3 linked regions of the Homo sapiens genome follow. The protein of the gene in region 3 purifies or fractionates together with the protein of the main gene of each other region. This does not show direct contact. Each region holds a gene or a part of one and is shown on either strand. Other genes may lie near its edges.

What was found. Proteins that work in one complex are often made in the same cells at the same time.
Region 1: the proteins of ZBTB7B (region 3) and SP3 purify together in Homo sapiens (affinity purification with western blotting, with the first as the bait; one study listed by BioGRID). This does not show direct contact.
Region 2: the proteins of ZBTB7B (region 3) and CEBPZ purify together in Homo sapiens (affinity purification with mass spectrometry, with the first as the bait; one study listed by BioGRID). This does not show direct contact.

What each region holds. Positions count from the first base shown.
Region 1 is NC_000002.12:173,947,611-173,952,415, reverse strand, and holds part of SP3 (transcription factor Sp3), read left to right. Parts: intron 1-4,805. UniProt on the Homo sapiens protein: Transcriptional factor that can act as an activator or repressor depending on isoform and/or post-translational modifications. Binds to GT and GC boxes promoter elements. Competes with SP1 for the GC-box promoters.
Region 2 is NC_000002.12:37,213,834-37,218,638, forward strand, and holds part of CEBPZ (CCAAT/enhancer-binding protein zeta), read right to left. Parts: intron 3,205-4,805; coding exon 3,151-3,204; intron 2,586-3,150; coding exon 2,483-2,585; intron 2,376-2,482; coding exon 2,307-2,375; exon of another isoform or gene 1,488-2,306; intron 1,120-1,487; coding exon 1,053-1,119; intron 129-1,052; coding exon 31-128; intron 1-30. UniProt on the Homo sapiens protein: Stimulates transcription from the HSP70 promoter.
Region 3 is NC_000001.11:155,008,525-155,013,329, reverse strand, and holds part of ZBTB7B (zinc finger and BTB domain-containing protein 7B), read right to left. Parts: intron 4,737-4,805; exon of another isoform or gene 4,383-4,736; coding exon of another isoform or gene 4,344-4,382; intron 3,073-4,343; coding exon of another isoform or gene 2,933-3,072; intron 2,870-2,932; exon of another isoform or gene 2,582-2,869; coding exon of another isoform or gene 2,315-2,581; intron 1,754-2,314; exon of another isoform or gene 714-1,753; intron 1-713. UniProt on the Homo sapiens protein: Transcription regulator that acts as a key regulator of lineage commitment of immature T-cell precursors. Exerts distinct biological functions in the mammary epithelial cells and T cells in a tissue-specific manner.

The DNA.
Region 1 (4,805 bases), on a different chromosome or scaffold from region 3:
GATTACAGCCATCCTAGTGGGTGTGAAGTGGTATCTTTTTATGGTTTTGGTTTGTAGTTCCTACTGCATATCTTTGTAGTAGTATTTATGATGAAATGGGAAGTATGCCTTAATAAAGCATTTTTGCTGCATATCAAAATAAGAATTGTCTTTAAAAAACCACTTTTTTCCCTCAGTTATGCAGTTCTGTGAGTTGCAAGCTGAACTAGATGCTATTTTCATCAAATACTGTTTTTACTTGAAAGAATGATAAACTGTGGTCTTGAGATTAATGTACTTAAGTGACAGATATTTCCTCAAAAAAAAAAAAAAAATGAAGTGAGCCTGTCATGTGAAGGAAAAAAACTGGAAAGCATTTGCTGCTGCAGATGACAAAATTTGTGCTTTCCAGTGAAAATTAGAATTTTAGAAAACTCAAATCTATTATGAGCTTGATACCTTCTTAATATTTTTCTGATGAGATGGATAGTGATACTAACAAAGCTTTTTTGATACTGTATTTTAATGTAATGTGCTAACACTTGGAAGATCTGTATGATAGTTCAGTGAACCGGCAGTTTTCAGATGACCAACTCATTATATTATAAAATCATGCATGAGTAAAAGATCCATTCAAAGTGCGAGATAGACCAATAACAGTATAGAAAGTTTACAGGTAGTGTCAGATTCCACATTTGGACTGAACTTGAAGAAACTGCCACCTGTTAAGTTTGGTGTAGTATTCAAAGAAAACCCACAATTGGCTGAAAGGATATTAAGTTATTCTTGCCCTTTCCAGGTAGATATCCGTGAGTAGATACTCTTCATATGGTTCAGCCCGAACCATATTGCAAGAGATTGAATGCAGGAGCAGATCTGAGACTTTAAATGTCTTCTTTTATTCACTCTAGACATTACAGAGATTTGTGAAAATGTAAAACATGGTTTTCTCATTAAACTTTTTTTGTTGTTTTGAAAAATGTTTTTCATAAAATGTTAATTTATGTTAACGTGTAATGGATTTATTTTTAAATGAACTAAATTTAAATTTCTGTTTATGATATGGTAAGTATCAGTATACACATATACTACATGAACAGAAGTTTTTTGTGAACGTCAGTAATGTGTAAGTTTGGAAAGGAGTTCTGAGACTAAAAGGTTTGAGTTAAGTGACAGACTACTGAAGACATAAAAGATAGTTTTTAGAAACTAGTTTTTAATGTGTGTACAAAATTAATGTTACAGCGTTCTATAGGTGTTAGAAAATAAATCTAGAAACTTTGATTTTTGTGGATTTATGTTGGTCATGAAATGAAGTTGGTATAAAGCACCAAGTTCTTCAGTAAAGTAATTTCTTTTCAAATGTTATCAGAATAGAAACACTGTGTATATTGAATACAAAATGGAATTTTAGTTTATTGAATGTTGCCCAGGAAGGGTAAAATAAATACTCCAGAAAGCCATTAAATTTGAATTTTGTCCTGATTTTAAAGGAACGGGGAAATTATTTGAGAAAGTAAAAGTTAAAGCAAGTGAGAATAAAAATGCTGTATAAGACATAGCATATTTAGTAATAAATTCATTTTGAGGATATAAACTTTCTCTTGGTATACTATCTTTCTAATTGGCAAGAAGGGAGATATGTTAAGATGCTTTTTCTCACTAGAAAATCAGAGCAAAACATTTTTGTTTCAGTGTTACGTGTAGTATGCCCAGATGAAAATGCTGAAAACTTTGACATCCTTGGTTTGCCTTTTTTACTTTTTTTTTTTTTTTTTAAGAGACAGGGTCTCTGTTTTCTAGGCTGGAGTGCAGTGGCATGATTATAACGCATTGTGATCTCAAACTCCTGGCCTGAGCCTCCTGAATGTGTAGAACTACAGGCTAGCGCCACCATGCCCAGCTAAGTTTTAAATTTTTTGTAGAGATGGCATCTTGCTATGTTGCCCAAGTTGGTCTTGAACTGCTAGGCACAAGCAGTCCTTTTGCCTTGGCCTCCCAAAGTGTTGGAATTATAGGCATGGGCCACTGTGCCTAGCCTGCACTTTACTTTTGATAAGCATGACATTAATGTAACAATTTCCCAAAATAAAGGAGAAAGTACTTTTTTTTTTTTTAAACCAGGGCTCTGGAACTTGCCTTTTTGTTTGTTTTTGTTAAGTTTAAAGGACCCCTTTAACAAAAATGACCTCTACTCGAGCCTGTATTAAGCAGTAAGTCTGACTTTGTTCCCTTCTTTTTTGGGGTACTTTTACTACTCCTTATCCTTTAGAAGGCAAATCTCCATCTTCCTGGAAACATCAGGCGCCAAGCTGAAACCCTACTAATCTTACATATTTCTGTCCATTTGTGGCCCACTGAGAAATGCATGCTGTTTTAGGAAACTTCATTGTTGTCTCATTTTTACTTTATCGTTGCTGTATATTTGAAACTGGGTAAGAGGAGGCAAAGTGTGAATTTATGTATCTTTCCAATGTCAAAATTTCCCCCAAATTTAAGCCAAGACTTAATTCAGTCTCTCAAATTTTAGTCCTCTGTCAGATTTTGTTTTATCTAAAATACAGTTAATCTTTCAAGACTGGGCACATTTAAAATGGAGTCAGGTGTTTGAAGTTGGAAGAAGAGTTTATAGAAGTCATTTCTTCTTAAAAGCAAACAACTTAATGTTTAGAATTCCCCATTATTCATGAAAAACTGGATAGTTGCAGGTTAACTGGTAGCTATCTTTTTTTGAGAAAATAGAAGCCTTATAAAAGGCAGGCTTTTTTAACTTAATATTTAAGTATTTAAAGATTGACAGGCGAAAGAGGGATGGATCTCTTATGGGCTCCTACTCTATCGGGTACTGTTTAGGTGTTTTTAGGTGTATTATCTCATATAATTCTTTCTTACATTAATCTATTTACTATTCTCACGGTTGGATAGGAAAGTAACTGGCCCAAGGCTTCACAACTAGGCTTTGTTCTTTTCACTCTCCTATAGTGTCTTGGCAGTGTGCTCTTTAATTTATATCAGTATTGTATTTTTCTTCCCTTTTTTTGGTTATTTTTATTTCAGATTTTTTTTTTTTCCTTTTTGAGGGTAAAATACTAGCCTTGAATAAAGTATTTTCTACATGGTAAGTGGAGGAAATGTCTTCTGAAACATTTTTATTTGTGATTCTAACAAGGTGAAAGATAAATCCTTACTGATTTTACCTAAGGGATCACTGTCAGAACTGGTTGATTATAGAAATGCACAAATACTGCTAAAAGGCCAACCCTATTGCTTGAAAAGTAGAGTGTATGATGGAAATGTGGTCTTTTTAGAGTTACAAAAAGAATAGACAAAATGTGATGACTATGATCTGTGCTGATTTTAAGTAATTGGTAGATCTCCTTTTGCCCCTCTTACACAACATAAAAGGTTGTTGTGTAAGACTTTTACACTGTTGCTTTCTGTAGACTTTAAAGTTGTCTTATCAAAAATAACCTGAGGATGGTTTATTTAGGTATCATACCACTTAGCTTGGTTATGTCTGAGTTCCTGTTCATTTGTGAATCATGTATGTATTGCATGCTATGGTCTTTAAATTTTAGAAATTAAGATTTTTATTTTAATGCTTGGGGAAAACCTATTCATATTCTGATTTTCCAACGATTTTTTTGGTTTATTAATTTTGAGACTTATAATTATTTATTTTCTGTACTTAAAGTTGATTTGCTTACAAAAGTAATACATGGCTTGATATGGAAAACAAAAACATTATGGAAATATTTAATGTAGAAAGTGAAATTTTCTCTTATCTCTTAGGAATAAGACTTAGTGTCATATATTTTAAAATATTGTCATAATTATACTGCATATACACTTTTTACAATATTGCTTAATTTTTAGTTTTAGGAGGATGAAAATAGAATAGTCGCCCCCCTTATCAGTGAGGGATAGTTCAAAGACCCCCAGTGGATCCTGAAACCTCAGGGAGTACCAAACCCTATATACACTATGGTTTTTACTATATGGTAATGAGTGGGTAGCATGTATAGTGGATAGGCTGGACAAAGGAATGATTCATGTCCCAGGTGGGATGGAATGAGACAGCATGAGATTTCTTAGTGCAAAGAATGGCATGTAATTTAAAACTTGCGAAGTCTTTATTTCTGGAATTTTTAATTTCATGTTTTCAGACTGTGATTGACTATGGGTAACAAACCATTGTGGAAAGCAAAACCTTGGATAAGGGTATAAGGACTTCCTATACTTGCTAAGTATTTAGGTCAAGAATTACATCCTATTTAATTAGCTATTAATATAGATAAAAGTACCCTACATGCAGAAAAACCCAGAGTTAGATTCATTGCTGAAAACAAGAGCCTGGAGTAGGGCTCTTTTTTGTTAAAGGGGAGCTACAAAAAGTTGTTGCTGTTTGTTATCCTGAGGTATGACTTAAATGAAGATTTACGGAGATGAGACGATGATGCAGGAAAATAGGAGGACATCAGCACAGTCTTACGACCACCACATCTGAACCAATCTGAACCATTGAACTGTTAGCTGAGTGTTTGGATTTGTGATATAGCCAGTATTACTGCTTACAAGAGTTATATATGAGTTTTGGGGCTTGCAGAAATGCCAGACCCAAAATTGTAATACTGAGAAAGAAAGAAAAAAATTGTATTCAAGATGATCCTGCAAACCTAAATTCCAAAATACATGAAGACAAAATCTGTGAAAGATAGCTGATAAAATCAACAATTAGGAGATGAATTCATGTCAGATTAAAGAAAACAAAACATTCTGTTGAAGACTTTGAAAATCAGTATGCTTGCAATTGTCAGTGAGATAAA
Region 2 (4,805 bases), on a different chromosome or scaffold from region 3:
ATTTTACAAAGAGTCAACAAAACAAATTACCAATCAGCTCTTCAAATTCTTCATCATCCACGTCTTCTATACTTTCTTCATCTGCATCCCGTTTTTGTTTCTCTTTAACAGCAACTTTTTTATAATACCTATAATATTCATGTTATATATTTGACAATTTTATTAAAGGTCTAATCTTACTATATATCATCAAAGCACCTATGACCAGTGGCAAACCACAACTGTAAAATCTTAAGTATACTCAATTGGAAATAAATGACTGAAATTTGTATCTAATATACAAAAAATAGTTTAACTCAATAAAAAGTAGCTGGAATCTTTTAAGTGTAATACATTTCAAAGATAATATTTTATCAGCCCTATTCTTATATTAGAATACAGCAAAACTTAGCCATTTACAGATGTAATCAAACCCTCAAAATTATTCATTCTAAATGATTTTAAAAAACAAGCCAAATCAAACCTAATTAACCAGTCAACCAGATGAGATAAGAGGTACTTTACTACCCTAAGGCATTAGGTTATGATACTAGTTGGTTTAGGACTTATTTCTATAACAGTGCACTGAATCCATTCTAAGGGCCATGGTCTGGATAAATTACCCATGAGTTATCACTATATTAAACTTAAAGTATTATATTAAAATCTATATTAAAGGTAGATTTTAAGCCTATAAAGAAAATTATTATAAAAGGAAATTAAAGGCTAAATTCCAAAAAGAAGCATAAAACAAAATTTATATGCTAAATTAACAAAACTCCCAAATTTACTTTAGTTTTACTAAGATATATTAAGATTAGCAAAATGACGGATTTGTAAATTTTCTTAACAAACACAGACATATCCTTTGATCTTTTCAAAATATGCTGATTAGATTTCATAAAATGAAGCATTTAAAACTAAGGCCACTTCTCCCACTAATGTTCCATGGTCTATTTACACACAGTAGTAGATTATTGAAGTAGATTATTTCATAAAATGAAGCATTTTATGAAATCTAAAAATTTAAATTTTAGCAGTTTCCCCAAATGAAACTATATTATGTATAGTACCTGTGGAAAAACACTTCATCCACTGGTATTTGGCTTTCTTCTTTTGCAAGGAACTCCTTACTGTTCACTACAAAAATAAATTTAAACATTTTAACTTCATATAGCAATCCCCTTTATGTTACTCAAGCTCTTAAGACAAAATACAGCATAATCTGTAATTCTAAAAATCTCAGAATTGTGTGGGAAGGTAGACAGAAGGGACTCTGGAGTGCAAGGGACAATCTCTGAAAAAGTCTGTGTGAAGACCCCCCCAACATTTGAAACTTCACTGGCTACAGCATAAAGTAGGCAGTACATAGCTGTCAGTGCCGTTACAGTGAAACAACAGGGTTCTCTTACTGTTCTTCATTTGCATCCAGGACCCAACTTTCAAGAGAAATAAAAAATTCAAAGAGTTATTTTAATAAATAATCACTTTAAACTTGTCATTTTCAGCTCAAAAAATGACAAGCTTGCCATTAATGCGTGCCATTCTGGGAATAAACAGGAAGTTAACAGAGTTTTCCTTTATACTGAGGAAAACTAAGAAATAAGGAACTACAAGAAATCAGTTTTACCTCTTCAGAATAAAAATTGCTGACTCATCCTGAGTAAAAGGAGATTTGGCTTTTAATTCTAACTTACTAACTGTGGGTAAGTCCTTTTACATCTCTGGACCTCTGTGAAGTAAGTCACTGGAAATTAAATGATCTATAAGGTCTAATTTAATCCTGGTCTCTGAACAAAAGGGAGATGAGATCTGGTATGCAAAGAAATGTCTGCTTTGAATACAACAACAGACTCAGATCCAGAAGATGGCTAGCAAATATAGAAGTAGGTTATTAAGTTTAAAATGATGCTCTGTGACAAAACCAGCTGTGGGTTTTTGTGCTGCTAAGCTGATATTAGAGAGCTTTAAGATGGTCTGAATTGTAAGCAATAATAATTATATACATAGGGGTTGTGGATGAAGCTACGGATGATAAAATGGTGACAACTGTCAAAGCTGGGTGATGGTAATGGGGAGGGGGTTCATCATACTATTTTGTTTATTTTGGATATGTTTCAAATTTGCTGTAATAAAGTTAAAAAAAAAAAAAAAAAGGCCCAGTCAGATACAGTAGATTTAAGAATACCTATTCTTGGGAAAAAAGATGGATAATGTCTTTGATGCTCAGGTTTTATTCTGATAAATTAGAACAAAGAATAATACAATTTATGCATCTTTGTCTTATATTGTCTTTTCAGTTTCAACTGTCTAAGGTTTATACTTACCAGGAAGATGACGAATATCCTTAATAAAATGTTTTCTTTTCGGCTGCATCACAACACTATCTGTGTTTTCTGAAATGTAAAATTATGACAGTATAATGCAAAACCTAGTTATAAGCTCATATTGTTTATTATGTATTAAAAATGAAAGCCAAATAATTCACTAAATAGAAGCATACCTTTGCCTTTATGGGGCTTTGGATTTCGGTATACAAATCGATCCAAAAATCTCATTAGAGTGAAATCCTGCAGTGGGTCCCCTGAATACTGAATATAGTTTCCCTGAAAAGTGGAGCGGGGATTTAAAAACTTAATTCAAATTATGTCTATGAATCCAAGTAAGAAAAAGGAAGAAAAAGATAATTTCTATTACACTGTATTGAAGATACAAATATGCAATAAATGACTCTTCAAATATCTCTCTCATGCACATTATACTTAAAAAATTAAACACACAGATACATATACATACATATTCTAGGATGTAATGTTGATTTGATGGATAGACTAATATTAATAATGCAGGCCATCTAACCATTAATCAGGAACCAAACCCTGAAGTGGCAAACACAGCAAATGGGAAAGTGAGGCAGTATTTCTCCAGGAGAGGAGCTAGAAGGTAATAAATAAATAACTGCGTGGCTTTCAATGTCTTATTGCTTCCACTCATCTCAGAGTGGGAAAAGTTATCTGCTACTCTGTATGAAACAAGTCACTGCTTCTTTATACGAGCAGTAAAATGTACAAGATTCTCTCTGTTAGAGAAAACACTGTATGACCAATTATTGATTATCTAAAATGATACTTTTTTTCTTATTTCTCATCTTTGGATTTATTTTAGACTCACCTGAAGGATGGTCTTTGCAAAAAGGGCCACGGAGGGATGAAAATGCACAGATAACTAAAAAGAAAAATGTGAATAATATCAATATTTCTAAGGTCGACTCTTAGTACATTTATAGCTTATTTAAGAAAATCGGGCTGGGTGTGGTGGCTCACACCTGTAATTCCAGCACTTTGGGAGGCTCAGGCAGGCAGATTGCTTGAGCCCAGAAGTTGAGACTGGCCTGGGCAATATGGCGAAACCCCATGTCTACAAAAAGTACAAAAATAGTCAGGGTGTGATGGTGCGCGCGTGCCTGTACTCCCAGCTACTCAGGAGGCTAAAGTGGGAGGACTGCCTGGGCCCAGGAGGTCGAGGCTGCAGTGAGCTGACATGGCACCACTGCACTCCAGCCTGGGTGACAGAGTGAGACCCTATTTCAACAACAACAAAAATGAAAATGCAAAAATTTGAAATTTAAGCCAATACATTAAAAAAGTGATTCTCAAAACATATTGGTCTCAGGACCATTTCCTACACTTAAAAACCAAAAATTCCATCAGTTTCTATTCAACAGGTTTATATCTACAGACACCTATGTTATAAAAATAAACAGAAAAATTGTAAATACTTATAGGTCCATTAAAAATAACAATAAAGCGGCCAGGCGCGGTGGCTCATGCCTGTAATCCCAGCACCTTGGGAGGCTGAGGTGGGCGGATCACGAGGTCAGGAGATCGAGACCATCCTGGCTAACATGGTGAAACCCCATCTCTACTAAAAATACAAAAAATTAGCCGGGCGTGGTGGCGGGTGCCTGTAGTCCCAGCTACTCGGGAGGCTGAGGCAGGAGAATGGTGTGAACCTGGGAGGCGGAACTTGGAGTGAGCCGAGATCGCGCCACTGCACTCTGGCCTAGGCAACAGAGCAAGACTCTGTCTCAAAAAAAAAAAACAAAAAACAAAAACAAAAACCATAAAGCTACTACATACTAGTAAGTAGCATATTTATGAAAAATAATTATGCAGCCAGGCGAGGTGGCTCATGCCTGTAATCCCAGCATTTTGGGAGGCCGAGGCGGGCGGATCACGAGGTCAGGAGATCGAGACCATCCTGGCTAACACGGTGAAACCCCGTCTCTACTAAAAATACAAAAAATTAGCCAGGCGTGGCGGTGTGCGCCTGTAGTCTCAGCTACTCGGGAGGCTGAGGCAGGAGGATGGTGTGAACCCGGGAGGCGGAGCTTGCAGTGAGCTGAGATCGCACCACCGCACTCCAGCCTGGGCGACAGAGCAAGACTCTGCCTCAAAAAAAAAAAGAAAAAAGAAAAAAAGAAAAATAATTATGCTTCAGGACGAAATATATAGCGAGTAGTATTACTTTACAGTTTTGCAAATCTCTTTAATGTCTGGCTTAACAGAAGAGAGTGGATTATTTCATCTGCTTCTGTATTCCACGTTGAAACATACAATCTGGCCTCATGTGTAGAAAATAGTCTTTCACATAGCTGTGAATTTTCTTCTTTAGTACTATACCAAAACCAAAGATTAGTTGTAATATGGAATCTGAAACCCATATTCAATTGGCTTTTGGTACTTGCTACTTAAAATTATTTGGTCTACTTTGAATCAATCATTTATTCACTCAAGAATTTGTAACATTCAGGTGGCACAGTGGCT
Region 3 (4,805 bases):
AAAGAACTGGGCTCTGGAGTCAGCCAGGCTTGAGTTTGAATCCTGTCTCTGCCACCAGTTAGCTCCATGACCTTAAACAAGTGATTTAATCTCTGAGCCGCCTTCCTCATCTGTAACATAGGATAATTCCACCTGACTCCTAGGGTTGTGGTGAGGGTTAAATGAGACCAAATATGGCACAATGCCTGATATGCAGTAGGGATTCGATAAATGTTCTGGCCTTGGCCTAGCCTGGGGTCAGATTCCACTATACAGATGGCCTCTGTTAAGAAAACTACTTGGGGACAGGTCTGCCTCCCTCCCTCAAATCACCCTGAGGGAACCAAGCTACTACTAGCTACATGACTTTGGACAAGTCACTTCCTTTCCTGAGGAAGCCTGTTCCTCATATGTAATATTAAAGACTGGCCCAGATGATCCCTAAGGCAAGTCCCACTGACATTTTGTCAGTGTCCCCTCTGCCACTCCAGCAGCTGTTCAGACCTGGCCATTGATGGGGAAAGGTTTTTTTTTTTTTTGGGTGGGGGGGTGAATGGGGGAGTCAAGCCACAAATTTCCTCTTTAGGACACAAGAAGTGCATTCTCTGTGTCTGCCTCCCTGCCTGCCCTCTTCATTGCAAGGCCAGGGCTCCTGCACAGAAACCTTGGGTGAGCAGCACCCGCATGTCCTTCTTTGCTTGTAAGCCACCTCTAGGCACCCTTAGATAGCTCACCTGTTCCCACCGTAAGTCCGCAAACCACTTCTCTCCCTAGGAACCAAGCCATCTGGGAGCTCTCCCTGCTCCCTTTAATCCTCCTGCCTGTACTTTACAAATGGTACAAGTGGCAAATGGCCCCCAGACTTGGGAACAAACAAAAACCAGGTGGGCAGCAGCAGCAGCAGGAGGAGCAGCAGCAACAGTGGCTGCAGCTACTTAAGCAGCAGTAGGCACCCTCCTGGGCCCAAGTGGATCCTGTCCCTCCTAAGGGGGATGGGTGGGGCTGTCCTCGCTGTCCATTGGCTGGGAGCTGGGCACTGGCAGGCACGTGGCTCACCCCATCCCTCTCCCTCCTTCCCTGCCCACCCCACCCATTCCCGCTGCTAAACCCGCCTCCTTTCTCCCACCCCAGGGCCGGTCTCCGTGGCAACTTGGTGTGGTGGGGGCGCTGATTGGCTGACCTCACTGTCAGGTCACAGGCTCAGGCTCGTTCACCACGCAACTCACACAGGGATTGGGCAAGGGTGGGTGTTTAACTCCTTAGGCCCAAATCCAATGCCCATGGCCAAGAGGTAGCAATGAAAGAGGGGGAGAGGCAGAGGACATGTGTGGGAAGGAGAGGGTGTTCATAAGCTTCTCTAGCTTCTGGGAAACTCCCCTAACCCTTACCCAGGGCTCTAACACCCATGCCAATATAGGTGCCACCTGGAGCTATGGTGGTGCCAACCAGGCCAAGGGGCCCTCCTAGACCCATCATCTGGGAGGGATGGGTGGGGCAAAGGCCTCCCCCTTCTTTCTGCCAGGGCAGGGCACTGGTGCCAGGGTGCCCACCCTACCTTGGGCACCTTTCCCACCTCTGCATCCCAGAGGGCCCAGTCCCCTGACGCCCCATGAAGGCGGCCCATCCCCACCCAATCTGGCATGCCCCCTCTTGCTAAGACCTTGTGGGCATGGGTGTGTGTGGTGGTTGGGGGTGCAGCTGTGCCAGGGAACCGGGCAAGGTCTGTTTGGTCTGTTTGCCTGGTAGGGGGAAGAACTGGGGGCCCCACCCCATCACTCCCCTCTTTCCCGCCACCCCCCCAGGCTCCCCTCACTGTCAGGCCTGCTAGACCGGCCAAGCCGGTGGGCAGCTCTCTTGAAACTGGGCCCTGAGTCAAGCCTGCCCTGTCCTTGGTTGGGGGAAGACTTCAGGGTGAGAAAGTTGGGAGGGGGTAAAGGTGGGAGTGCCTATCACCTACCCTTCAGTGCTCAAGGGCACCTGGCAGGGTATGTCCAGCACCAAGAAACCAAAAGGTGGAGGCCACTGGCCTGGTCTTGGAAAGAAAAGGGAGATGGGAACTCTTTCCGGGTGCTGACCTCAGGCAGGGTCCAGTGCAGGGCTGGGGGCCACGAAGGCCAACACTGCTGGCTTGAGCCAGCCGAAGGGCAGGGATAGCAGGCCCTGAACAGGGCAGCTGAGTAAAGCTGACCCCCCTTTCCCCCACCCTGGGGATTAGGGGAGTGAGGCTTAGTGTGGGGGGCAGCAGGCGGAACCAGGATTAGCAGCAGAGAAAATAGATATGGGCCTGGGACACAGGCACGCAGAGCCCCCCCTCCCCAGGTTCCAAGGCCCCTACCTCTAGGCTCTGCCAGGGAGCCTGAGAGGGGCCTGGCCAGGCTTCTCCAGGAGCAGCAGCTTGGGGTGAGGGAGGATGAGGACCAGGCTGTAACATCTTCCTGCCAGGGATGATGGAGAGACCTGAGGCTCTTCCCAACGCTCCTGGTGCCTTGGCTGGCCACCCCTCCCCCTTACTTCTGTCTCCTTTCTCCCTCCACCCCCCCACCCCAACTCCAGCCTCAGGTTCTCTTCCTGTTTTTTTGGAGCTAAGTTTGCACGAAGCCATGGCTTTGGCCTGCGTCTGGACCAGGGGGGTGGGGAAATTGGACAGCCAGTCCAAAGTCCTAAGGGACCCAGGAATCCTTGTTCTCCAGCTTCCCCCACCGCTTCCCAGGGCCTCTGGGGCCCAGGAGCTGCAGCCATCTGGATTGCCCAGTTGGGGAGGGAAGGTAAAGGGGCTGAGCCTCTTCTCACATGAGGACTAGAAGGGCTTCAAAGAAGAGGTTCTCTGCCCAGGGATGCTCTGACATTTATGGAGCCCTTCTCTCCCCACCCCAGCCCCTCCAAGCTTGTGCATGCCTTCCCCATCCCCCATATGACGCTTCCCCCTCCTAACCTCACCACCCCCAGCACTCACACTTCCTGGGGGCCGAGGCGGGGAAGAGAGACCGCAAGCCACGAAGGGGGAAGGAGGCGAGGGGAGTTGGCTGCTTCCCGGTGCTGTGGGGGTTAAGTCTCTGCCCAGCTCCAAATCCCCCAGTCCTGGTTCTGGGGCTCCTGAAATGAGGGAGACCTTAATGCTTCCCTACATTTTCTTTCCATGACACCAGCCCTTGCCCATAGCCCCTTAGTCCCCATCAAGGGAAATATGAGGAAGATAAAAGATGGCGGAGGAAGGAATGGGGGCAACTCTCTCAGCCTTAGCGCCGCCACCTTTGGGTATTCCCTGCCATCATCCAGCCCTCACTCTTGCCCCTCTCTTGGCCTCCTGGTTCTGTCCCCTCATTGCCTCCTCCGACCCTTGTCTTCCCTCCACAAGTCCACCCTTTGCTTTCCTTCCTTCAGCCCTCCCTGAACTCCGCATCCTCTCCACCCCATCAGTGTCCCTAGGCCTCCTCCCAGGAACTGTCCCTGCCTCTCCTTTCTCTTCCCCTTGGTTCTCTCTTGCTCAAACTTCTCCACTTTCTCCATTGGCCCCCTGCTCCAACCATCCATTCCCTTCTTCCCAGGCATATGAGGGGTGGAGAGCCGCAGAGGAATTAAATCAGGGACCAGGCCTGCCTTCCAATGCCTGGTCTTGCCAAAAGATGGTTGAGTTTAGGGCACCCACACCCCACTTTTGGATGAAGCAGGGGACCACAATTTGGGAGCCAGTTGGGGAGAATGAGTGGTGGAGGGGGGTTTGCAGCGAGAGCGGATGTGGGGTGGGGGTGGGGGGACAACCTGTGCCTCTCTGCCCGTCAGAGTTTCCAGCCCTGGAGCTGCTGGACTTTCCCCGGAGGGTGCCCACCCTGGACCAGGCAATTGTCCACTTGGACAGACTCTGGCCATCAGGATTCTCAGCAGGGTCTGCCTGGACAGTGCCAGCTCCCCTTAGGGCCTGAGGAGACCGCACAAGGTGCCAGGGTCTGCCCTGTGCCCACCCCCTCCCCCCCAGCCTAGTGTCTCCGGCTGGGTAACCGAGCTGGCTGGTAACCCCACACCCGCCAAGCCGCCAGCAGAAACCTGAGCCCCCCAGCCCCAGAGGACACCCCAGCCCGATCTCCGGAGCCCGGCTCTCTGCCAGCCTGTCCAGCCTCCTGGCCTGGCCCAGCAATCACTCAGTCCCTATAGGCCCCTCTTCTGCCTCTCCTGATCTGCTCGGGTCCCCTTAAACACTGAGGCCTCCCCACATTCCCGCTTCTCAAGCCCTCAGTTCCCTAAACTCTCTTGTGAAGTCTGGGCACCCTCTTCCTGACCTGTTTTTCAGTCCTCTGACCCTTGGCTAATTCTAGGCCTCCAAGCCCCCCTGGGGCCTGATCTCCCAAGCCAGAGCAGGGCCTACTCACCTGAACGCTGAGGGGCCTGGCGGCAACTCCTCCTGGCCCCTGGGGGCAGCAGGTTGGGACAGGTGGGGGAGGGCCAGGCTTGGGGGGAGGTAGGGTGGCTGTTCCCCGCTCCAGCTCCCTCCTTCAAAGGGGCCGCCCACGACCTGGCCCAGCCCCTCCCCCCTACAGCCTTAACCCTCTGGGTGCTGTCCCCCCTCCCCCCAGCTTGGAGGGAGGGGTTACCGGAGGGCTGGCGGCGTGGGAGAGGGCCCAGAGTCTCTGCCTGTGGTGCCTGAAGCCCCAGCAGAACCCACCCACTCCTGTCCTTACTCAGTCCTAAAAGAGGAAAAAGGTGAGGGGTAGGAAAGGTAGGAGCTGGGACAGTCCAGGAGGACAGAGATGAGGAGGAGCAATGGGAGAGGCTACTGGAGGTGGGACCAGGAGAAGGAAGAAGGGAGGGGAGGGGACGGAGGCAGCTGTGGC